7 linked regions of the Homo sapiens genome follow. The protein of the gene in region 1 purifies or fractionates together with the protein of each later gene. This does not show direct contact. Each region holds a gene or a part of one and is shown on either strand. Other genes may lie near its edges.

What was found.
Region 2: the proteins of ABL1 (region 1) and STON2 purify together in Homo sapiens (affinity purification with mass spectrometry, with the first as the bait; one large-scale study listed by BioGRID). This does not show direct contact.
Region 3: the proteins of ABL1 (region 1) and INPPL1 purify together in Homo sapiens (affinity purification with western blotting; 2 studies listed by BioGRID, with this or other methods). This does not show direct contact.
Region 4: the proteins of ABL1 (region 1) and NCKAP1 purify together in Homo sapiens (affinity purification with mass spectrometry; 2 studies listed by BioGRID and IntAct, with this or other methods). This does not show direct contact.
Region 5: the proteins of ABL1 (region 1) and LRRC59 purify together in Homo sapiens (affinity purification with mass spectrometry; one large-scale study listed by BioGRID and IntAct). This does not show direct contact.
Region 6: the proteins of ABL1 (region 1) and SHC1 purify together in Homo sapiens (affinity purification with western blotting; 5 studies listed by BioGRID, with this or other methods). This does not show direct contact.
Region 7: the proteins of ABL1 (region 1) and NEDD9 purify together in Homo sapiens (affinity purification with western blotting; 2 studies listed by BioGRID). This does not show direct contact.

The regions. Positions count from the first base shown.
Region 1 is NC_000009.12:130,852,254-130,855,753, reverse strand, and holds part of ABL1 (tyrosine-protein kinase ABL1), read right to left. Parts: intron 1,691-3,500; coding exon 1,517-1,690; intron 954-1,516; coding exon 658-953; intron 1-657. UniProt on the Homo sapiens protein: Non-receptor tyrosine-protein kinase that plays a role in many key processes linked to cell growth and survival such as cytoskeleton remodeling in response to extracellular stimuli, cell motility and adhesion, receptor endocytosis, autophagy, DNA damage response and apoptosis.
Region 2 is NC_000014.9:81,390,325-81,393,824, forward strand, and holds part of STON2 (stonin-2), read right to left. Parts: intron 1-3,500. UniProt on the Homo sapiens protein: Adapter protein involved in endocytic machinery. Involved in the synaptic vesicle recycling. May facilitate clathrin-coated vesicle uncoating.
Region 3 is NC_000011.10:72,237,207-72,239,647, reverse strand, and holds the end of INPPL1 (phosphatidylinositol 3,4,5-trisphosphate 5-phosphatase 2), read right to left. Parts: coding exon 1,852-2,441; intron 1,607-1,851; coding exon 1,473-1,606; intron 1,386-1,472; coding exon 1,295-1,385; 3' UTR 501-1,294; downstream 1-500. UniProt on the Homo sapiens protein: Phosphatidylinositol (PtdIns) phosphatase that specifically hydrolyzes the 5-phosphate of phosphatidylinositol-3,4,5-trisphosphate (PtdIns(3,4,5)P3) to produce PtdIns(3,4)P2, thereby negatively regulating the PI3K (phosphoinositide 3-kinase) pathways.
Region 4 is NC_000002.12:182,926,958-182,930,457, forward strand, and holds part of NCKAP1 (nck-associated protein 1), read right to left. Parts: intron 1,943-3,500; coding exon 1,826-1,942; intron 1,270-1,825; coding exon 1,160-1,269; intron 1-1,159. UniProt on the Homo sapiens protein: Part of the WAVE complex that regulates lamellipodia formation. The WAVE complex regulates actin filament reorganization via its interaction with the Arp2/3 complex. Actin remodeling activity is regulated by RAC1.
Region 5 is NC_000017.11:50,387,524-50,391,023, forward strand, and holds part of LRRC59 (leucine-rich repeat-containing protein 59), read right to left. Parts: intron 610-3,500; coding exon 537-609; intron 1-536.
Region 6 is NC_000001.11:154,964,773-154,967,747, reverse strand, and holds part of SHC1 (SHC-transforming protein 1), read left to right. Parts: coding exon 1-77; intron 78-1,203; coding exon of another isoform or gene 1,204-1,230; coding exon 1,231-1,429; intron 1,430-1,516; coding exon 1,517-1,586; intron 1,587-1,667; coding exon 1,668-1,802; intron 1,803-1,966; coding exon 1,967-2,205; coding exon of another isoform or gene 2,206-2,379; exon of another isoform or gene 2,380-2,462; intron 2,463-2,975. UniProt on the Homo sapiens protein: Signaling adapter that couples activated growth factor receptors to signaling pathways. Participates in a signaling cascade initiated by activated KIT and KITLG/SCF.
Region 7 is NC_000006.12:11,191,169-11,194,668, reverse strand, and holds part of NEDD9 (enhancer of filamentation 1), read left to right. Parts: intron 1-976; coding exon 977-1,078; intron 1,079-2,222; coding exon 2,223-2,324; intron 2,325-3,463; coding exon 3,464-3,500. UniProt on the Homo sapiens protein: Scaffolding protein which plays a central coordinating role for tyrosine-kinase-based signaling related to cell adhesion. As a focal adhesion protein, plays a role in embryonic fibroblast migration.

The sequences.
Region 1 (3,500 bases):
ATTATAGCAATACCTCAGTCAATGTTAACTCCTCCCTTCTCTTTATGGACTCTTAAGGATTATTTATATGAAGACCACAAAATCATATAGGCCACCTCCCTTACAACACCACACTTTGGGTTTGGTAAGCTGTGGGTTTGATCCCGGTTTTCACTGAAAACTGCATGCGTGTATGCACGTATGTCCACACACCTCTCCATGAATGTGTTCATCCGCAGGAAGAAGCCCACGTGCCAGGCGTCTGTGGGGGAGGGGATAGTAAAGTGGTCTTTCGCTCTAAGAAAGGTTATCTATTATTTGAATTTTTCTCGTTGGGGATGATTTCTATCATTATAAAATATTTTTTTTAAAGGAAGAATCTTATTGTAAAAAATGTGTCCAAAACCCAACAGATATTCCTCCTATTTTAAGTAACTTGCTAACAACAAAACTCTAGCAAGACAATAAGAGAATCATACCAGTCCCAGGAACTTGTAATATCACAGAACGGATCCTCAATAAAGGGTCTTCATAAGGCTAATGGAATGACTCCCACCTGAAAGATTCTTTAAACATCTTCTTGGTTGAGCTTTCTTGCAATAATTTATCAATCCGACAGCAGGACCTCTGGTTCCCCTGCCCTGGGCCCATCAGCGCCCCCTGCCAAGGGTCCCCTACCTTGCCATCAGAAGCAGTGTTGATCCTGTAATGGTACACCCTCCCTTCGTATCTCAGCGAGATGGACCTCTGGCCAGGACTGCTCTCACTCTCACGCACCAAGAAGCTGCCATTGATCCCGCTGCTCAGCAGATACTCAGCGGCATTGCGGGACACAGGCCCATGGTACCAGGAGTGTTTCTCCAGACTGTTGACTGGCGTGATGTAGTTGCTTGGGACCCAGCCTTGGCCATTTTTGGTTTGGGCTTCACACCATTCCCCATTGTGATTATAGCCTAAGACCCGGAGCTTTTCACCTGAGAAGAAAGGAACCAAATCAGACATATCAGCTTTGGAAACCAGCTTCGTTCTTTTTCATTGATTCTTGTGTAACTACTAAAAATCTCCAAATTCCTAAATACCAATTTCATTTTAACAAGTCCACATAAAGATATGCATTTATAAGTGTATGAGAATTCACGTTTACATTTGAAGCTTCCTGTTTGTACTGAACAGATAGGTAAGTGTATAGCCTCAGTTTTTATAAATCAATTATGTTTATTCAAGTGCTCTGTTCCTAATATAAGACATTTTAGGGAAATAATGCTTTTTCTTAGGGGAAAAATTGCGTTCAGTATTTTGTCCAGCTGTCCTTTTCAGTATAAAAAATAGGGCAAGTTCTGTTTTTGCCCAGGGCTATTGTACAAGAACTCCTCTAAGGAGAGTCGACTCCCTTAGAAACATGCAGTTGTTGTTTTGGATATCCCTGCAGTCCAGATTTCAAAGCTGCTCCTTTAACGAGCAAAGGGTGGTAGGTCAAACCGCAATTCCCAGATTTCTATCTCCTGCAACCACCACTAGCTGCCCACAACCCTTTTACCTTTAGTTATGCTTAGAGTGTTATCTCCACTGGCCACAAAATCATACAGTGCAACGAAAAGGTTGGGGTCATTTTCACTGGGTCCAGCGAGAAGGTTTTCCTTGGAGTTCCAACGAGCGGCTTCACTCAGACCCTGAGGCTCAAAGTCAGATGCTACTGGCCGCTGAAGGGCTTCTGGAAGAGAAAGGGGGGAACAGAAAAAAGAAAAAGGAAGAGAAAATTGGGAGAAAAAATTAGTTTTATTCTCAGAAGCAAAAATATTTGTGTTTCCAACATTACACATTCCTATTTCATTTCTTAACATCTGTACATACTATTATCATTAAGGTGGTTTTTAAAAAACTCTTCCTTTACTAAATCTTGTGGAAATTAAGTATTTTCACTCCAAGGTGGTAATTATTGTTCCCCAATAGTTTGAGCTTCTAAAATTCATGGATTCAATATGACTTTAGTCAAATTAAAACAGTCTATCCACATATGCATTTGCCTTTGCTTAAAATATGCAATGAAAATTTCTTGCTTTAGCCGGGCATGGTGGCTCACGCCCGTAATCCCAGCACTTTGGGAGGCCAAGGTGGGTGGATCACCTGAGTTCAGGAGTTTGAGACCAACTTGACCAACATGGTGAAACCCTGTCTCCATTAGACATACAAAAATTAGCCGGGCATGGTGACGCACACCTGTAGTCCCAGCTACTCAGGAGGCTGAGGCAGGAGAATCGCTTGAACCCAGGAGGTGGAGGTCTCAGTGAGCAGAGATTGCGCCACTGCACTCCAGCCTGGGTAACGAGAAACTCCGTGTCAAAAAAAAAAGCCGGGGGTGGATCATGAGGTCAGGAGTTCAAGACCAACCTGACCAACACAGTGAAATCCTGTCTTTACTACAAATACAAAAATCAGCCGGGCATGGTGGCAGGTGCCTGTAGTCCCAGCTACTTGGGAGGCTGAGGCAGGAGAATTGCTTGAACCTGGGAGGCGGAGGTTGCAGTGAGCCAAGATCGTGCCACTGTACTCCAGCCTGGGTGACAGAGTGAGACTCCATCTCAAAAAAAAAAAAAAAAAAAAAAAGAAAAGTCAAATCGTACAGAAGGGCTTAAAATGAAAGACAAATACTTTCTATCCCAGTCCTCTCCGCTCCCAGAGGCAGAGCTGTTTTTTTGGTGATCACCCCCACCTCTCTAAGTACCAGCTAGATCACTGGAGTCCTATTCTCCGTAACAGACGCACACCTTCACTGCCTGTTCTTCCAACTAGGACAGCGTCTCTGAGGACTTACTTCACAAGACAAGGCTATTAACACACCCCACCCGTCCTTCCAGCTTTCTTGCCCCCACGACCACCCTCAAATATGTTCTTCTGTAAATTTTTTTTTTTAACCTTGTGGCAATTATTATTACAGAATAGAAAAAACTGTTACTAAACTTCCATGTTTTGTCTGAAACAGATTCTAAAAGTTGGAAATCAATCAACAGCTCTTAAATTAGAAAATGTGTGAATATTATTCATTACAGGGTCAAATAGGTTATTTGTTCCTGAAGTTTCTTCTTGCCTTTTTTTTTTGAACAGGGCTCAAACGCTCCAGAATTTCTTTGTGATAAAGACAACGTGTAGACGAGTTCTTGCAAACCAGCAAATCAAATAACCTCAAGTAGATCTTACAGTTGAAGAACATTGTGGAGTGAAATCCAAAATACTCATTTAAGGAACTACAATTTAAAAATCACTAACTGGGCCAGGCACAGTAGCTCATGCCTGTAACCCTAGAACATTGGGAGGCTGAGGCAGGCAGATTGCCTGAGCCTGAGCTCAGGAGTTCAAAACCAACCTGGGCAACACGGTGAAACCCCGTCACTACTAAAATAGAAAAAACTAGCCGGGCATGGTGGCGGGCGCCTGTAGTTCCAGCTACTAGTCCCAGCTACTCAGGAGGCTGAGGTAGGAGAATCGCTTGAGTCTGGGAGGCGGAGGTTGCAGTGAGCTGAGAT
Region 2 (3,500 bases), on another chromosome or scaffold:
TGGATTTCTGCTCAATTCTGAGCACTGCGCTATGTCTTTGAATATCCACACCTAGCAGAACTATACAGAGGAAGTGCTTAGTAAATATCTGGTGACTCAATGAGTAAATTATAAGGAGCTGTAAGGTTTAGGGACAAAGCACACTGACATGCACACATCTCCTTAAGAAATACCCTGCATCGTGAGCTGGGATCGCGCCACTGCACTCCAGAGCCTGGGCAACAGAGCGAGACTCCGTCTCAAAAAACAAAACAAAAAACAAACAAACAAACAAACAAACAAAAAGTCCTGCATCATTACAGATTTACAGATGCTCCCCTAATTCAGACTGACTCATTCTCAGCCTTATGCAAAGGGTTCCATTTTAAGATTTTACAGACTTAGTACATTAGTTTCCTATGGCTGCTGTAACAAATTACCACAAACTTGGTATCTCAAAACAACAGTAATTTATTCTCTCACAGTTCTGGAAGCCAGAGTCTGAGATGAGAATCACTGTGCTAAAATCAAGATGTCAGCAGAACTGCACTCCCCGCAGAGGCTTTAAGGAAGCATCTGTTTCTTGTATCTTGCAGCTTCTGGTGGCTGCCGGCATTCCTTGGCTGTGGCTTCATCACTAAAATCTTTAAGATCAGCATTTTCAAATTTCTTTCTGTTTCATCTTCACAGTGCCTTCTCTTCTGTGTAAGCAAAATCGCCCTCTGCCACTTTCATAAGGATGCATGTGATTGCAGTTAAGGCCCACAGATAATCCAGAATTATCTCCCCATCTCAAAATCCTTACTCTCATCTACAAAGACCCTTTTCCCAAATATGATAATATTTATAGGTTCCAGGGAGGACAACCTAATGTCTTTGGGAGCCATTACTCAGCTTAGTATTACTGGAAGAACAGAGCAGGTAGCAGTGATTGCAGCAAGTCTCACACTGTCTCTACTTGCTGCAAACATCTGTGTTATTTCTGCATAATGCCTGCAGTTACATATGTGGTATTATTGCAATATACAGCACATGCATTCAAACATTTTGGATTCAAATTAAAATCTGAGCTGCACAACAGCCTCCTGAATGGAATGACTGTGTAACTTGGGGAATGTCTACATTATCCATTATGTGGGGGCAGGAGTGGGGGGCTAACGCCTAGTCTCTCCTGTGTAATTGGCCTTAGCTCTGCCAATTACTCTATCCTTATTGTTAAACACAATCCATGGGAGGAAACCCAAGAGGGAATTAGCTTATGTGGGAGAGGTTAGTTTGGGTAATAGGAATGTACTCTGCAGCTTTTGATTCAGTTTAGGTTCATTGATGGGTCAAGTTGGGTATTGGCAGAAAATTTGGAATTGAACCATTTTCTTTACCACTCTAATGCTGTGCACCGTCCCCTATGCTCCTTGGGTTTCCAGGTTAGAAACACTTCTTGAGGTGGGGCTGGCCCTCCACATGGTTTATTTCTGCTTCTTGCCTACAGACTGGGCATCAAGTCTGCTGGGAACCCATCCTACAGGACCCTCCTAAGGTAGAAAACTCCATCTCCACAGGGTTGAGTTAAATTTTCACACATATGAACAGATGGAATTATTCATACTTGAGCAGTTTTCAAAATTATGCTTTCATGCATTTGAACACTGTCATTTCTTGATTTATTCTCTAGTAATATTAATACATCTAAAATTCTTAGGACAATGCAGGGCTGAGATTAGGCTAAGGCAAGTGACACACTTGCCTTGGAGGTAAAATTTAAGAGGGTGCCAAAAAACTCAGTAATCAAAGTAACATTTTAAGGCAATATGTTAAAAATATCAACTCAAAATCAAAGCAGCAAACTACAGCTCACAGGTTGACTATCTCTGTAAATAAAGCTTTATTAGAACCAGTGAGACAGCCAGAGGGGAGGGGGTTCCCAGAAAAACTCCAACTGGCCTGTGCACTGGGGTGGAGCTGCGGAAGTTTGTGCCACTTGCAGCAGGGAAGAGCCTGGCCCCTCCTCTTCCTGTGTGGAACCTGGGATTTGGGCGCGGTCCGGAAGTGCTCTAGATGAACTCTGGCCTCGCTGAGAGTCCCTGTTTCCCCTCTTTTTTCCTTTTCACCCAATAAAGCCCTGCTTTACTTACCCTTCAAACCATCTGTGAGCCTGAATTTTCATGGCTGTGGGATGGACAAGGACCCCATCTTTAGCTGAACTTTAGGAAAATTCCTGCAACACCAGGTCCAGGTGGGCCAAGTGTAGCATAGTCATGAAAGTGTTAATTGAATCTTGTCTTTAAAGTACTGATATTTTGTTCATTAAGAATTTTTTGCATTATGTGATTTTAAAAAATAATTTTAAAATAACTTTAATTTTTAAACTGAATTCTTAAATATTTTTTTAAAAACTTTTTTTTCAAGACAATTATTACAATTTGATATGGAGCAAAAGTGCTTCATGTATTTTTTCCCAATCTGTCACAGAGAATGTTAAAAAGACATACTCAAGAATCACAATTTTAAGAAATTAATAATTTTTACTGCCTCATCAAGGATATTATTGGGTGAAATATACATTTTGTTTTACTGTGAGTAGACAATGGCCAAAAGTTTCATCTGCTGTTATTTTTTAACCATCAATGCAAATGTCAATGCAGTGAAAAGGCAAATAACATCTTAGAATTAGAATGAAAATGATTTTAACCCCAAAGACGCCTTGAAAGGGTCTCAGGAGACAGCAAGGTCTATGGGCCAGACTGTGAATTGCTGCCTTAAAGGGTAAAGCTTTCACAATATATCAAAAGCATTGTCAGTCACAAGATAAGATCCTCAGTCAGATGGGGGCAACATAATTATGACTAATCTCAAAATTAGTTTTGGAAAAATCAGTGAAGAGTTGAGCAAATTGACTGTCATATAAATAGTTTTGAGCAATCAGGAAATCTTTGAGGCTAAAGATAAAATGTGAAAGAATCTGAATGGCATGAATATAATCCATGACCTGAAGGCACGGCCATTTTAGGGCAGCAAAGTGGAGAAAGAGCACCCCACCCATCACTTACCTTCCATTCCTTGCCCCCACTGCCTCCTGGGTAATGAGGGAGCAGAGGATACTAGAGCAGCAGCAGCAGCAGCAGCAGGAAGAGTGAGGCAAACGGAAGGAGAGCACAGGGCATCCGAAGGCTGCTCCAAGACCTTGGGGCCGGTCAGCCTGGTGCGGAAGCTCTCCTGCCATTTCCTAGCACACAATCTTGGTTGAATTCCCAAAGCCCACTTCTGGCTGAGTCTCCTCCACCATGTGTAATATGGATTAATATTAATACCTTCCTCATACAATTGTTGTAAGGAGTACATGATATGAAGTAGCTAAGGCACTGAGCACAGAAACTGAGACAATAAGTATGCAGTAAATGTATCATATTAAGCAGAAGGAACATTATTTCTGTGCTCATTCACTGCCCAGTGTTCCGTAACTTTTCCCTACATGCATCAACACTTAGCCCAGAGCCTTCTCAGTGTTAGGTGTTCAGTAAGGG
Region 3 (2,441 bases), on another chromosome or scaffold:
TCCGTCTCCACTCCCTACTGTCTCACCCCTCGGTGTGTCCTCCCCAACTTTGGAGACCAAGTCAGGGCCACTCTCGTCCTCACCCACCCTCTACCAGCAGAGCGGAGTTCTTTATACCGGGACCTCCTCCAGGAGAACCCCGGAGCTCCTTCTAGCTTGGCCTTCTTTGGATGCGGTATCACATGAGGCCTGTCCCTAACAGTGCCCTCAAAGTGAAGGTCCTCAAGGAGGATCGGCACAGCCCCCTTCCCTGGCTCTGCAGCGGCTGGGTCACCCCTTACGCTGGTGATCAGGAAAGCCCGCTGCCCCACCCCTCGGGCCCACCCGTACAGAGGCTGGTGGTCGCCGGGATAATTAATGACCACCGCCAATTCATCCCTCACGTGTCTCCTCTCTTCCCTAGCCCGTCTGGCACAGAGGGTGGACCTGTTAGAGGAGTGGAGGGGCTGCCTGGGGAATGGGACAGAGGGATTCTCTTTCCCTAATTTTTTTGGTTGTCCTTTTTCTTTGAAAAACTTGTAATTTATTGAAGTTTTACTCAATCCAAATAAAACTTAATTTATTGAAGACATCACGCCGCAACCCTTACGACTGCCCAGGAGGCTGCTTGCAAGACCCTGTCCCGGGCTGAGACCTGCGAGGAACCTCCCTCCCCCACCCTGCCGCCGTGCATCCCCAGAGCAGGGCAGCACAGACCAGGAGACAGTGAGAACTAAGCAAACTGGCACTTTATGGCTGAGATCCTGCCCCACCCCAACCAACCCCAATAATATTAAGGTGCTCTCCCTCCCCAGACCCACACAGAACAGTTTAAATAAACCCCAGCCCGGTCCTCGGGCTATTCCTTCATTTCCGGACGGACACCCGCCCCCACCCCCAGCGGGGGTGGGGAGGTCTTAGCGGAGCTCCTCCGCTGTGGTTCAGGCCCGGTGGAAGGCCGCAGAAACTGGTGAAAGTGGGGGCCCAGACGTACCCAAATGGACCCCCACAGGCACCCCTGGGGCTGGGAGGCGGGGTCCAGTAAAACAGGACAGCACCAGAGTAACCAGGGTCCTCGGTAACCATGGCAACTGACCTTCCGTCCTGAGCCTAAAAGGCGAGGGGCAGGATGCCCTAATTAGGGCATTGCAAATGATTGGGCAGCGGGGAATGCAGATCCCCAATAAATAGGCACCCCAATAAATAGGCAGAGAGATACTGCCCTGACCCTCATAACTTTTCAACCCTGGGGCCATAGCTGGGCCTTGGTAGCAGGGAGGGGCTCTGAGTTCACAGCTTCGTGGTGCCTCCGCTATCACTTGCTGAGCTGCAGGGTGTCCAGAAGGAGGCGCTTGTGAGCCGGGTCCTGCACCCCAGCCTCCTCCAAGTCCTCCTCGGTGATGTCACTGTGGAGTAAAACAGGCTGGGAAGTGAGATGGGCAAGGGGATCCTGAGGGCCCCAGCTCCGCCCCCGGGGCCAGCCCCTCCCCCACCTGAGAAACTCCAGGTCGTCCCAGCCATTATGCACCAGGCCCTCCTCATAGCGCTCCAAGCCGATGGCCCGCAGCCAGGCACTCATGCCTGCCTCGCCCAGCCCGCTGGCCCGCCCGCCCTGCAGGCACGGAGCCTAAGGAAACAGGGCATGTCAGGGGGAGCTGAGTGCCCCCCATAGAAACACCTGCAGTCACATTCTGCTGCATGCTCTGGGGAAAAGGAAGGGAAGGGCTGGGCTGATACATGTGTCTCCCAACTTCCCAGTGATCAGTTCAGGGTAGCAGGGACACCATGAGTGCTGAATGGTGGAGTGAAAGGGTACCAGTCTGTGGGCAAGCACACTCAGGCACACACAGACAGCCACCCTGCTCCACACACCTCCTCTGCCAGGTCTTCCTGGATGCTCTCCCGGATGCGGGGTGGAGGGAAGCTGAGGGGCCGGCCATAGTCCGAGGGCAGTCCCCGGGGGGGCTGCAGCTCCAGGGGGCCTGGGAGGAGCGCTGAGCGTGCAGGCCCAGCAGGGGCATAGTCCACCTCGCTCAGCGTCTTGGCCATCTGCAGCACCGAGCAGGACCGGTCATCCCCACTGGCCACTTCCCCCAGGAAAGTGCTGGCTGGTGAGGGGCCTGGGGGCAGTGGAGGCCTTGGATGGGCCTTGGGAGGTGGTGGGCCACGGGCCTCAGCCCCACCACGGCCCCGGACCACTGGCCCTGGTAAAGGATCCAGGCTGGGGGGCAGGAAGATGGCTGAGTCCGGCAGTGGTGGAGGTGGAAAGTCTGGAGGGGGCAGTGTGCCTCCAGACTCCTCATCTGAAGAACTCCCCTCTCCCACACGAGGGTGCCGGTGGTGCCCAAGCTGTGGAGCAGGCACTGTAATGGCCACTTTGTTCTTGGTGGCAGATGGGACAGGGGCCCTGGCAGGCGAGGGTGGCTCCGGGGGCAGCAGCTGGTGCGGGACCCCTTCAAGGA
Region 4 (3,500 bases), on another chromosome or scaffold:
TTACTTATTTTAGGTATGTTTCAACTTCCAACACATTTCAATCATTCAGTGCTAAATATAAAATAATGAGCAATTAAATAAGATGAGCTTAGATAGCCTACATTCAAGCAGTAATTTAGAGAGTAATTAAGGCACAAAGAGACACTAACATAATAAATGTAATCAAATATTCTTATTGGTCTTTAAAACTGATTTTTTCAGAACAAGTCTGCTTTTTAAAATGATTCAAATTATTTTCTCTTATCCCATCCCATTATCTATACTGACTATATTTCTTAGTTCCCAAGGAAGAAGACAGTTTCACACTGGATTTGACTTCACAGAAACACTGTAAGATTAAGACATTAAACCCTGAGTGAAGGAATTATTTGCAAATGGAAAGAAACACTTAAAATTTTTAATAGTGTTTTCCTTGAAATAGAAGTTATTTTCTCCTCAAGTTAGTACTATATTTGCATTTGTAATTTAAAAATTATTTTTTAAAAAAGCTGACAGGATTTATAACTGAAAAAGAAGTAAATGTTCTAGAGTTCAGTATGCCATGGTATATCTTTCGTTTAAATAAAATATGGAAAAGGTTATATTAATAAAGAAAAGAAAGAACTACATTGATAGAGAAACTAAAAACCATGTTTCATGAGGCTACATTTAGCACTCCTCTCTCTTGGTAGTGAGTAGTATTTTTAATGATGAATTTTTCACCATTAATTGTCTTTCTCCAAAGAAATGGAAAAAAGTAAAATATGTCTTTTTAGAGGGAATAGCTTCTCTCTTGGCCTCAATTTTCCTTTGCTTTTTTTCTCTTTCAAGCCTAGGAAAATTTCTAGGGCAGTCCAAACATCAGCTTGGGGAAAAAAGGTCATATTGCAGAGCTCTAGAGTTGGGAAAGAGACTTCCGAGTCTAAGGGAAATAACGGACGGCTCCTCGATTTTAATGCCCCACCTTCACCTGTTTCTCCCTCCAAAAAAGAAAATAAACAAATAAAAATAAAAGGAGACTGAAATTCATATACCTGAGAAAATAATTTGAAAACAAAATGCCATTAGAGGACACTAAATAAAATGTAAAAATAAAGAGAATTTATTCTTACATTTTGTGGTTGTGAATTTTAGTTTTCTTTATAAAATGTGATGAGTTTTGTTATTTGATTATACATACCGCCAGAAATTCTTTAAGACGGTCTTCAATGCTTCCTTTGTGAATTGTAAACAAAGCTGCAGCAATCTGGTTGATGGCTTTGGCCAAGCAATGTATGTTGTTGCAATGCCCTGAGAAAATGCAAATAGGGTTGTGTAGACCCCAAAATAGCAAATAATACATAGAAGGCAAATCTTTAATGACTTCACAATCTGCATAAATAGGGGCATAATTAAGAGTAGAGTTGGGACATGACCGGACTTGCTCTCCTTTGACTTTCATGAACACTGATGTTTTTAAAACTAGTTTAACAGGAGAGTAACAAACGATCGTGTATATGTTAAACAGGCAAACACTTCTGAAAACATCTAAAAGAAATCACACATCAGTTTTATAGTAGCTCGGAAATAAAAAGGAAGTGCTTAGCTGCTTTACAACATTTTACCATTCAATCCTTAAAATAATCCTATGAGTTGGATAATCCCTCACCGACCTCTACACACATTCAGGCACACATGAGCTTACTTACACACATTTCATATATCAGGAAACTGCAGTTTAGGAAAAGGGAAACAGACTACCCCATGTTCCACTGCCAGTTAGTGGCAGAACTTAACTCATATTTTATTATAAAATACCAAAACCCATGATTTATTCATCGCCAAAACAATTTTAAACCACTATTACCTTCTATAGCAGGGCTGTACTGAGACATCACATTACTGGCCAGTGTTGGCAAAGAAACTGCCACAAACACCATGAGAAGGCAGGCAATTTTATACTCTTCTTCTGGACTAATGTTTTCTAAGAGACAAAAATTAAGAATAAAATCAAGGTATTTCTTCAAGATTAGTTAAGATTTGATAATCTAAACTAAACAGATTTTTATTTTAAAAATGGTTTACTTTTTTTTTTGAAATAGTAAACTATTTTACTAGCATTCTATAGAATTGGTCACAATTTTGTTATAAAAATATAAAGTAGAAACAGTTTATATTACAATGGACTATTATCAACTACTTAGGCATATTTCAAGGACGTCTGATAAAACAGTAAGGTAAGATTTTATTTTTTTTAATTGTAAGATTATAGAACAAAAAATACAGTTAGGATAACTGCAATCCTACAATTTCCTAATTGAAAACTAATGAGGAATTATTACTTTATGAGACAGTTCTATTTACAATTTAGAAAACTTATAAATTATTCTGCAAAATCACCAAAAAAATCTTAATTACTTTTTGAAAGAGATATGAATATAATTTGAAATTTACTATTTAAAAGACATAAATGTGGAAAGTGGAATGGGTTTTCAACCTCTCTATTTTAGAAGACAGAAGAAACTAGTCATGAATAAAAGAAGACAGAAGAAGACAGAAGAAACTAGTCATGAATAAAAATACCCAGCATTGCTCTAAAGCTTTCAAGACATAACCCTTTCTAAAACATTTATTGTGATATGCACTCAAATTGTGGGTTATTTAGGCTACTAATCACCATTAGATATAATTAAGAATTGAATGTAAGAAAAGAGCTGAAATATGTTTTAAAGATTTGGTCGACTACAAAAAATACAGCTGTAGCAAATCAAGTAATAATTATAATTATCCATGTGACTAAATGTAACATACTGTATGAATGAGGAAACAAAATTGCATTGTTAAATGAAAAAAAAAAAAAAACTGATGAACTCAAACACCATGCTGCTGCCTCAAGGAGGCAGAAGGGGCATTTTAGTAGTAGAAAGAGATGAAATGCTATATTTACTTTGTAGACAAATCAAGAAATATCTACAGGATTCTGAGTACTGCATTTCTAAGGGCTGGTCTTAAAAATTTCTAAATGTTTTATATAAAACTCTTGATGGTGAATAACTCTAGTACAATAAAAACAGAATACCCTTTCCTAGATCTCAATTTTTTGCTATCTACTGGACCATCTCCCATTAGCATACAAATGCTGTAATCTCCTCCATCTTAAAAAAATCCTTCTCTTGACTTTGCTCTTGCCTCCAGCTGGTGAGATTTTATTTCTTTGCTTCCCTTTACAATAGAACTCTTTGAGTTGTCTTCTAGTTATCTCCAAATCCTTTCCTCCTGTTCTCCCTTAATCTCCCTTACTCACTACTCAGCCTTTTGCCCATAAAACCTCACTGACACTGATCTTGTTAGTACCACCAATTAACTCTACATAGCTGATCATTTCCTTTCTATCTTCCTGGAAGCTACCCTTTCCTGGTTTTTCTTCTACTTCATTGGTCCTTTCTTCTCAATTTCTCTAAATTTCTTTTTTCGTGGTTTTTCCTTTTCTCCCTGAGCTCTTAAATCTTAGAATGGCTCAAGGCTCAGACCTGGATCCTCTT
Region 5 (3,500 bases), on another chromosome or scaffold:
TTGTGAAGAGAATGAGTTTAAGGAGATGGCAGCATCATGGAGACATGCTGGAAGGCATTGTGATGGTCCCAGAATGGTGGCTGGTTAGAGATGGCACCGGAGCTGGAGAAACAGTCCCACATAGGACTTGCTGACAGATTGGATGTGGGAATTACAGAAAAAAAGGAGTCATTAACATCTTTCCTATTTTAGGCTTGAATAACTATAGGGAAAGTGATTTCCTATTACAGGGAACACTGGGAGGGACTGAAGGGCCATCAGGAATCTGTTTTAGCCACATTTCATATGAATGCCTATTAACCCTCCAAGCAGAGATGAAATATAAGCAGTTGACTGCCTCTAGAGCACAGCAGAGAAGCCAGGACTGAAGAGAGATTCATCAGATAAAGACGATACCATCCACCACAATACTGTCCCCCCACCGCCCACTAACTGTTCTTCATGACTACTCTACTGGATCCCAGCTCCTGAAGCATGAGAATCCACTGGCTGGGATGAGGACCTGAAAGATAACTACAAGAGGGACAGCCACCTACCACGTTCTACTTCCAGCCGCCGCTGCCTCTCCCGCTCCTGATCTGCCTGCACGGCCTTCATGTGCTGTAACACCTGCAAAGGAAAAGGAGGAAAGTAGTGCTCTTCATAGTCATGTTTGCTCAGGGAAGTCTCAAAAAACAGACTATTTTCAGGCTTCCAGATTATCATGGTAGCAATGTAGAACTAATAAGAGTTAGGCTGAATGTGGTGGCTCACGCCTGTAACCCCAACACTCTGGGAAGCCGAGATAGAAGGACTGCTTGAGCCCAGGAGTTCAAGACAAGCCTCGGCAACATAATGAGACCCTGTCTCTACAGAAAAATGTAAAAAATTGGCCAGGCACAGCGGCAGATGCCTGTAGTCTCAGCTACTTAGGAGGCCAAGGAGAGAGGATTACTTGAACCCAGAAGGTCAAGGCTGCAGTGAGCTGTGGTCACGCCATGGCACTCCAGTCTGGGTGAAGACTGAGACCCTATCTCAAAACAACAACCACCACCACCACCACCACCAAACTAATAGAGTTAATTGTATCTTTGTATCCTAAAATTACTGTGCCAACCTTAGTTGGAGAAGAGTGCTATGAGCCAAGGTCATTAAAACTGTCAGAAAAAAGTGAAACACAATGCCAACTCGAATCTGTAAAAAGTTCTGCCATTTACACTCACTGTCACATGCATGATTCCATATGACCCTCAGCAACAACTTGGGAACAGCATTTCCTCCAACACGCTTTCCTGACTGCCCCTCCTGTGGCTACCTTAAGTCCCCCTCCATCTACTCCTGTGGAATTCAACACAGGACATTGTAGCTACTTGCTACCTATCTGGCTTGGTCATAAGATGGCAGATTCCTTAATGGCAGGAACCGCTGTCTGGTCTGTAGGTATCACACAGGGGCGTGGCTAGCACAGAGTTTAGCTAATTGCAGGCATTCAATACATACATGAGGAATGGCTAATTCCCATTTCAAAAGGAAGAAAACCAAGACTCATAGGGTGATTTGTCCACTGCTAATGGCCAGAAAGCAGCACAGCTAAGACCTGAGCACAGTCCCCTGCATTCCTAGGGCAGAGCTTGTCGCACACACTTTCACCACATGCAGAGGAGAGCTCCGAGAGAAGCCTACACACAGCACACTTGTACTCGGCAATCTGAGCTCCCCAGATCCACATAAACTCGCTCATGGATGACCTCTAACCACACAATCACAAAGATTCTCGCTATGGTGGGTGGAGGAGGTAAAGACCTTTTCTGTTTGTATTTTTTTAAAGGTGGTATTCTTTGGCTGTAGGGGATAGAGTGTAAGCTTGGAGCCCAACGCAATCCTGACTACCCCTTATTGTATAACCTTGGCAAGTGACTTAACCTTTCTGAGCCGATTTTCTGATCGAGAAAACAGAGATAAGATATACTTCTATGGAGTGTTGTGAAGAATAAATAATATAACTTGTATTGGCTGCCTTGTATAATCTCTGGCATTATATGTGCTCAGTAAGTACTGCTGCTTATTTTCTTTACCATGTGAGTAAGAAAAAAGAAGAAAACCCAAACTATTAGCAAAAGGGTCTTGTTTTACTACTGCACTTAACAATTACATTTGAATATGCATGCGCACGAGACAGACATGTATATTCATATGTAATTCTTATTTCTAGAAAACTCCAGACACGCATACCTCCAGACAAGCACACACCCATCATAAGAAGTATTCAGGAGCAGACCAGCAAAAGGATCTCCTTTCAAAAGCCTGGTTTGGGCCAGGCGCGGTGGCTCACACCTGTAATCCCACACTTTGGGAGGCCAAGGTGGGCAGATCACTGGAGCTCAGGAGTTCAAGACCAGCCTGACCGATATGGTGAAACTCCCATCTCTACTAAAAAATACAAAAATTAGCTGGGTGTGGTGGTGTGCGCCTGTAATCCCAGCTACTCAGGAGGCTGAGGCAGGAGAATCTCTTGAACCCGGGAGGTGGAGGTTGCAGTGAGCTGAGATTGCGCCACTGCACTCCAGCCTGGACGATAGAGCGTGACTCTGTCTCAAAAAAAAAAAAAAAAAAAGAAAAAGGAAAGAAATCAGGTCTGGACCCAGAGTTAGGGCTCAGGGCACTCAGGCAGTAGAGAAGTTATGGGTCCCGTTGCCATGATTGCAGGGAGAGTGTGGAAAGTAAGAGTCCAGGGTGTTGGCTGAGGAAAAGGAGTGAGGGGAGTGGATCACCTGAGGTCAGGAGTTCAAGACAAGCCTGGCCAACATGGTGAAACCCCATCTCTACTAAAAATGCAAAAATTAGCCAGTCATGGTGGCATGCCCCTGTAATCCCAGCTACTTGGGAAGCTGAGGTGGGAGAACTGCTTGAACCCGGGAGGCGCAGGTTGCAGTGAACTGAGAGTGCGCCACTGCCCTCCAGCTTGGGTGACAGAGCAAGACCCCATGTCAAAAAAAAAAAAATTAATTATCTGAAAACACAGGCAATGCAGAAATGGGACAGATTGTCATAGTCTGGAGTCTGTGAGCTCCTGGAGGGTAAATTTTTGTCTAGCTACTCTAGTTCATAGCATACAGTAAGCACTTGATGAATACATTGAACAAATCATTTTTAAAAATTGCTTTAATATGTACCAAGCAGATTAAGACTAACCCATATACCCACCAGGGTTTAGGTCTTACCTGGTCAGAGCTAGTAAGACCTAAACTAATTCCTGCAGACAGACGACCTGATTCTGACTGGCCCAGGCCATTTCCCTACAAAGCCTAAAGGTGTGCTGCAGCTCTAGGACAGCTGTGCTAGGGACCATGGCTTTAGTTACCACATCCACTATGCTGCCTGGAGCTTTGTCTGAAAGACATATGCAAATACAAAAGGCCTTTGTACTCAATCAAAATTATTTTTGTATGTCAAAAACTGGAATATCATCAATTTCCTATGGTTCCACATATTACCTACTGAATGAATGGATGGATGGATGA
Region 6 (2,975 bases), on another chromosome or scaffold:
ACCATTGGCCAGGCCTTCGAGTTGCGCTTCAAACAATACCTCAGGAACCCACCCAAACTGGTCACCCCTCATGACAGGTGAGCAGGTGGGGAGAGTGTGGAGCAGCTCTTGGATTAGGATTAGGAAAGGAGGGCTGCTCTTCCTACACTTGAGTTGAGAGGTTCAGGGAGGGAATAACCTGTGTGCCTCTGCTTCCCACTTCCTGCTATTCTTCTGTTTCCTGTGGCCCAGGAGGAAAGACTTTTGAGGCCCTGCTTGCCGCAGGACCAGCTTTTCTTGTTTGCTCATGGTGGAGTTGTAGTCCGGGGCCTCCAAGTTACATCTCTCTCTGGCTAGGTGGGATTTTCTACTCCCATCCCTCTTTCTTGCTCATTTCTCTGCTTGGCATTATGTGTTTTCCTGCCTCTAGAAGCCATCAAGAATTTGGGTTTGGGAGGATATCTCTTTTCCCTGAGATTACAACCTTTCCCACCTCAGGCCTTGAGGGATAAGCAGTGGAGCCAGTAGGGATTGAATATTTAGGAGAGGTTAAAATATTCTGGAGCTGGAGTGCCTCCCCCGGCCCCCCACCCCCCTACATGGTGCTTCCCTTCCTTGTTGGGAGATAGCACAGAGATCAAGAGCAAGAGCATTACTTATTTGAGACAGTCTTGCTCTGTAGCCCAGGCTGGAGTTCAGTGGTACAATCACAGCTCACTGTAGCCTCCATATCCTGGGCTTGAGTGATCCTCCCACCTTAGCCTCCTGAGTAGCTGGGGCTACAGGTGCATGCCACCACACCTGGCTGAGTAGTAGTATTTTTATTCTGGTAGAGATAAGGTCTCGCTATGTTGTCCTGGCTGGTCTTGAACTCCTAGGCTCAAACAACCCTCCCTCCTTGGCCTCTGAAAGTGTTGGGATTATAGGCGTGAGCCATTGCACCTGGCCAAGGGGATGAGCTTTAAAGTCAAACCTGAATTTAAATCTGAGCTCGGCCGCCTTTTAGTTGTGAGACCTTGGGCAGATCTTTTCACCTCTGACCCTCATTTTCCTCATCTGTAAAAGTGGGGAAGGAAACAATACCTACCTTACGGGGTTGCCAGGAGAATGAAATGATTATGTATATAAAACACTCAGCCTCAGGCTTAATCCATAGTAAATACCCAATAGATGGCTGCTGTTCTATTCTGTCCTTCCCTCCTCCTGCCCACCACACATTTACAGCCACAGCTTCACTGTCCTGTCCCTCAGGATGGCTGGCTTTGATGGCTCAGCATGGGATGAGGAGGAGGAAGAGCCACCTGACCATCAGTACTATAATGACTTCCCGGGGAAGGAACCCCCCTTGGGGGGGGTGGTAGACATGAGGCTTCGGGAAGGAGCCGCTCCAGGGGCTGCTCGACCCACTGCACCCAATGCCCAGACCCCCAGCCACTTGGGAGCTACATTGGTAAGTTGCTTGGATGGAGGCGGGCTGGGGCTAGGGTGGGAGTGGTTGGTTAGGGCTTCTGGTCTCACCTTATTTTTATCCCTGCAGCCTGTAGGACAGCCTGTTGGGGGAGATCCAGAAGTCCGCAAACAGATGCCACCTCCACCACCCTGTCCAGGTATGAAGGGAGCCGAGATAGGCAGAGCTGGGGAGTGTTGGAGGCAGGGCTGGGATCACTGTAGAGCCTCCCTTTCCTCAGCAGGCAGAGAGCTTTTTGATGATCCCTCCTATGTCAACGTCCAGAACCTAGACAAGGCCCGGCAAGCAGTGGGTGGTGCTGGGCCCCCCAATCCTGCTATCAATGGCAGTGCACCCCGGGACCTGTTTGACATGAGTGAGTGCTCGTCTCTCTCCTCTCTGCATCCCCACCTTTCTACTTGGTTCTGGCCCTTCTCCTGCCTATCTGCTCTTTCCTTCCTGACTTCCCTTCCCTGAAGTCTGGGTCTTGGGTGTGTGTTGTGCCTGCTACTTCCCCTCACCCTCCCTCTATACTTCCAGAGCCCTTCGAAGATGCTCTTCGCGTGCCTCCACCTCCCCAGTCGGTGTCCATGGCTGAGCAGCTCCGAGGGGAGCCCTGGTTCCATGGGAAGCTGAGCCGGCGGGAGGCTGAGGCACTGCTGCAGCTCAATGGGGACTTCCTGGTACGGGAGAGCACGACCACACCTGGCCAGTATGTGCTCACTGGCTTGCAGAGTGGGCAGCCTAAGCATTTGCTACTGGTGGACCCTGAGGGTGTGGTGAGTGTGGCAGAGGTGTGGGTGAGGGGTGGCAAAAAGGAAGGTACAGTACCCTACAGTGTATCCCTCTTCCTTCCCTCATTGCTTTGTAGACATTCCCGCTGGGCAGCTGTCTATGGGCCTCTCTTGCTCTTTAAAGTGTCTGGCATCTTCCTCCAGAGGCTCATCCCTTAGCCTGAACTATGTTCTTTATAGTCCTGGCACAGGGCCAGGCGTGGTGGCTCACACCTGTAATCCCAGCGCTTTGGGAGGCTGAGGCAGGTGAATCACCTGAGGTCAGGAGTTCGAGACCAGCCTGACCAATATGGTGAAACCCTGTCTCTACTAAAAATACAAAAATTAGCCGGGTGTGGTGGCAGGCACCTGTAGTCCCAGCTACTCAGGAGGCTGAGGCAGGAGAATTGCTTGAATCTGGGATGCAGAGGTTGCAATGAGCTGAGATCACACCACTGCACTCCAGCCTGGGTGACAGAGTGAGACTCTGTCTGAAAAAACAAAACAAAACAAATACAGTCCTGGCCCGTCCTCAAATCCCCAAGCCTTAAGCTTATCAGAGCTAGAAGGCAGTCATCTCATCTGTGCCCCTCTTTTGACAAATAAGGAAACCACCCTGAAGAGGTTGTGATGCCCAATGTCAGATGGTTAGAGGCTAGACACTGCAAGTTTCCTTTTGTAAGAAGATCCAAGGGCTTCTCCAGCTCCCCAGACTCAGGACTCAGACCACTGTGCTTTCTCTTATCTGCACTGCCTCACTGTTCTTCAAAACTTTC
Region 7 (3,500 bases), on another chromosome or scaffold:
TGGGAAAATGATTAGAGACCAGAGGTCAGGAGACCTGAATTCTGTTCCTGGTGCCTCCCTGACTCAGTATTTTGTTTGTTTGATACGTTAGAATGAAAGCTCCCAGAGGTTTCTAAGGACAGCACAGTTTGAGCATTGGCTTTGTAAAAGTACTCTGGTGACCTGTGGAATTACAGTTATAATCATCATAATAATGTCCAATGAAGAGGCATACTGAGGAAGGCATGAGAGGAATTTTAAGTGGCTAAACTCTATTTGCATTATTCATTTTACAAATTGTTTCAGAGCCTTAAAGCAAATTTCAGTATGCGGTACTTTAGATGCAAAATGCTCCTCTAGGACTTTCATAAGTTACACACAAGTATCCCTTAAAGTATATTTCAGAAATATGCTTGCAGTGCATCAACTCTATCTGATGAACTTTGAGATGATCACAATTAAGGGTGATAGAGATATTTTAGGGATTTTTTTTCTCATTGGGATTCAAGAGGGATTTAAAAGTTTACTAACCTGGGCCAGATGCAGTGGCTCACACCTGTAATCCCTGCACTTTTGGGGGCTGAGGTGGGTGGATCACCTGAGGTCAGGAGTTTGAGACCAGCCAACATGATGAAACCCTGTCTCTACTAAAAATACAAAAAATTAGCTGGGCATGGTGGCGTGCACCTGTAATCTCAACTACTCAGGAGGCTGAGGCAGGAAAATCACTTGAACCCGGGAGGCAGAGGTTGCTGTAAGCTGAGATTGTGCCACTGTACTCCAGCCTGGGGAGCAAGAGCAAAACTCCATTTCAAAAAAAAAAAAAAAAGTTTACTAACGTGGTGTCTACTTGTCTCCTTCCTGTTATGTCTTCTTTCTTTGGTTTCTTTCTATCTTTTTATGAGGGAGAGTTGAGGGATGAGTGCTTAGTTAGGAGGCAAGGAGATTCAAGGACTCAGGCTTGGAAATTTACACCTCTGTGCCTTCTCTCCCACAGGTGATAACCCCCGTGAGGACAGGCCATGGCTACGTATACGAGTACCCATCCAGATACCAAAAGGACGTCTATGATATCCCTCCTTCTCATACCACTCAAGGGGTGCGTACCAGAACATGGTCACAAGAGGAGAAGCGCTTCTAAGGGTAGCATTCCTTCAGGGCTGTAGAGAAAAGGGAGTTCACAAATTATGCATTAATATATGTCATATGAAGCTTTGTTTAGGTTGTCTACCCAGTAGCCACTTTAGCCAATGCTATTTAAATTATGTTTTCTGGATTTGCTTTATCAGGAAATCCTAGTATTTCACCCAAGAGAGCTTATGTTCTTCTACAATTTTGCTTCAGAAAGTAGATTTTTCTTTTTTCTTTTTTTTTTTTTTAAGACAGAATCTCACTTTGTTGCCCAGGCTGGAGTGCAGTGGCTCTATCTCAGCTCACTGCAACCTCCACCTCCCAGGCTCAAGCAACTCTCCTGCCCCTGCCTCAGCTTCCCAAGTAGCTGGGACTACAGGCACACACACCACCATACCTGACTAATTTTTGTATTTTGTAGGGACAGGCTTTTGCCATGGTGGCCAGGCTGGTTTTGAACTCCTAACTGCAAGTGGTCTGCCCACCTCGGCCTTCCAAAGTGCTGGGATTACAGGTGTGAGCCACGGCCCCCAGCTGGAAAGTAGAAAATTTAAACTACACTTTAAAGTACAGACAGCGTAGATATTTCACATAAGATCTTTTTTTTTTTTTTTTTTTTTTTTTTTGAGACAGAGTCTTGTTCTGTCACCAGGCTGGGAGTGCAGTGGCACGATCTCAGCTCACTGCAACCTCTGCCTCCCGGGTTCAGGCGATTCTCCTGTCTCAGCCTCCCAAGTAGCTGGGACTACAGGTGTGCACCACCACACCCAGCTAATTTTTGTATTTTTAGTAGAGATGGGGTTTTACCATGTTGGCCAGGATGGTCTCGATTTCTTGACCTTGTGATCTGCCCACCTCAGCCTCCCAAAGTGCTGGGATTACAGGCGTGAGCCACCGTGCCTGGCCAAAATCATTTTTATATTAAATGTAAGTTAAAAACCATAAAATGTATTAAAAAAAAAGGCAATAAATCTGTTATAACATGGAGCACTGCCAAAGATCAAGCTTGTACATAACCTGGTAAATAAATCCATAATTAAGTGCTTAGGAGCATAAAAAATGACCAAGTATAAGACATTTCCATTCTGGGTAACTCACGGGTTTCTCTTCAGGTATACGACATCCCTCCCTCATCAGCAAAAGGCCCTGTGTTTTCAGTTCCAGTGGGAGAGATAAAACCTCAAGGGGTGTATGACATCCCGCCTACAAAAGGGGTGAGTGAGTGACTACAAAGCAGCAAAAAGGAGTGTGTGTGTGTGTCTGTGTGTCGGGGGGTGCAGGGTTGGGAGGGTGGGTAAGTAGTTCACTCGAATAAAACAAGAAAGGCAAACCCAAAAGGGGAAAATGTAGTCTTGGTGAGAGTAAAGGAAGGAAGCAAAAAAGGAAAGGCACTAATTAAAGATAGCTCTAGGGATTTCATATTGAGAAGCCCCAACTAAAAAACACTAGGTGGCCAATAAGGATAACCCTTTGGCAGGGAAGATAATTAGTTCAGTTTGGCAAGTACTAATATATATTTGTAGAGGGTTTGTTTTGTTTTGTTACATTTTGTTTGAGACAGGGTCTCGCTCTGTCACCCAGGCTGGAGTGCAGTGGCGCAACCACAGCTCATTGCAGTCTTTACTTCCCAGGCTCAAGCAATCCTCCCACCTCAGGCTCCCAAGTAGCTGGGACCACAGGTGCACGCCACCATGACTGGATAAATTTTATTTTTTGTAGAGACGGTGTCTCCCTATGTTGCCCAGGCTTGTTTTGAACATATGGGCTTAAATGATCCTACTACCTTGGCCTCCCAAAGTGCTGAGATTACAGGCTGAGCCGCGCCTGGCCTGTAGAGGGTTTGACAGTTTCCTCAGTGTGTATGTTTGAGTGAACTCGTTTGACTCACTCTGTTACCCTATGGGGTATGCCTGCACAGGAGGCACAGTAATCCCTACTTTACAGACAAGGGGACTGTGTTTCAGACGCCTATGCAGCTCATTCAGCATCACACAGCTGGTGTGATAACCAAAAAGACCGGGGGAGAACTCTGGTCTTACTCTGCCTCTCGGCACAGATCAGCAGAGAAAGGATACCCAGGAGGTGGTCAGAAACACAGGACTGGAAACACAGGGTGAGCAATTTAGCCAGGAGGGTTGTACATACGAGTCTGCACCAAGAACGTGGGGTTGGACACACTTGGCAAAGGACAAGGGAAGTGACAGCAGAATAACGGGGAACCTTGGAAGTGCCTAACATTGGGGCGGGGGAGGGCGACCGAAAAAGTGCCAGCAAATAGGACTGAGCACATGGGACCACAGGTTCCCATGAGCCAACTCAATAAATAGCATTTCGCTTTCTACTTGCTTTGCAGGTATATGCCATTCCGCCCTCTGCTTGCCGGGATGAAG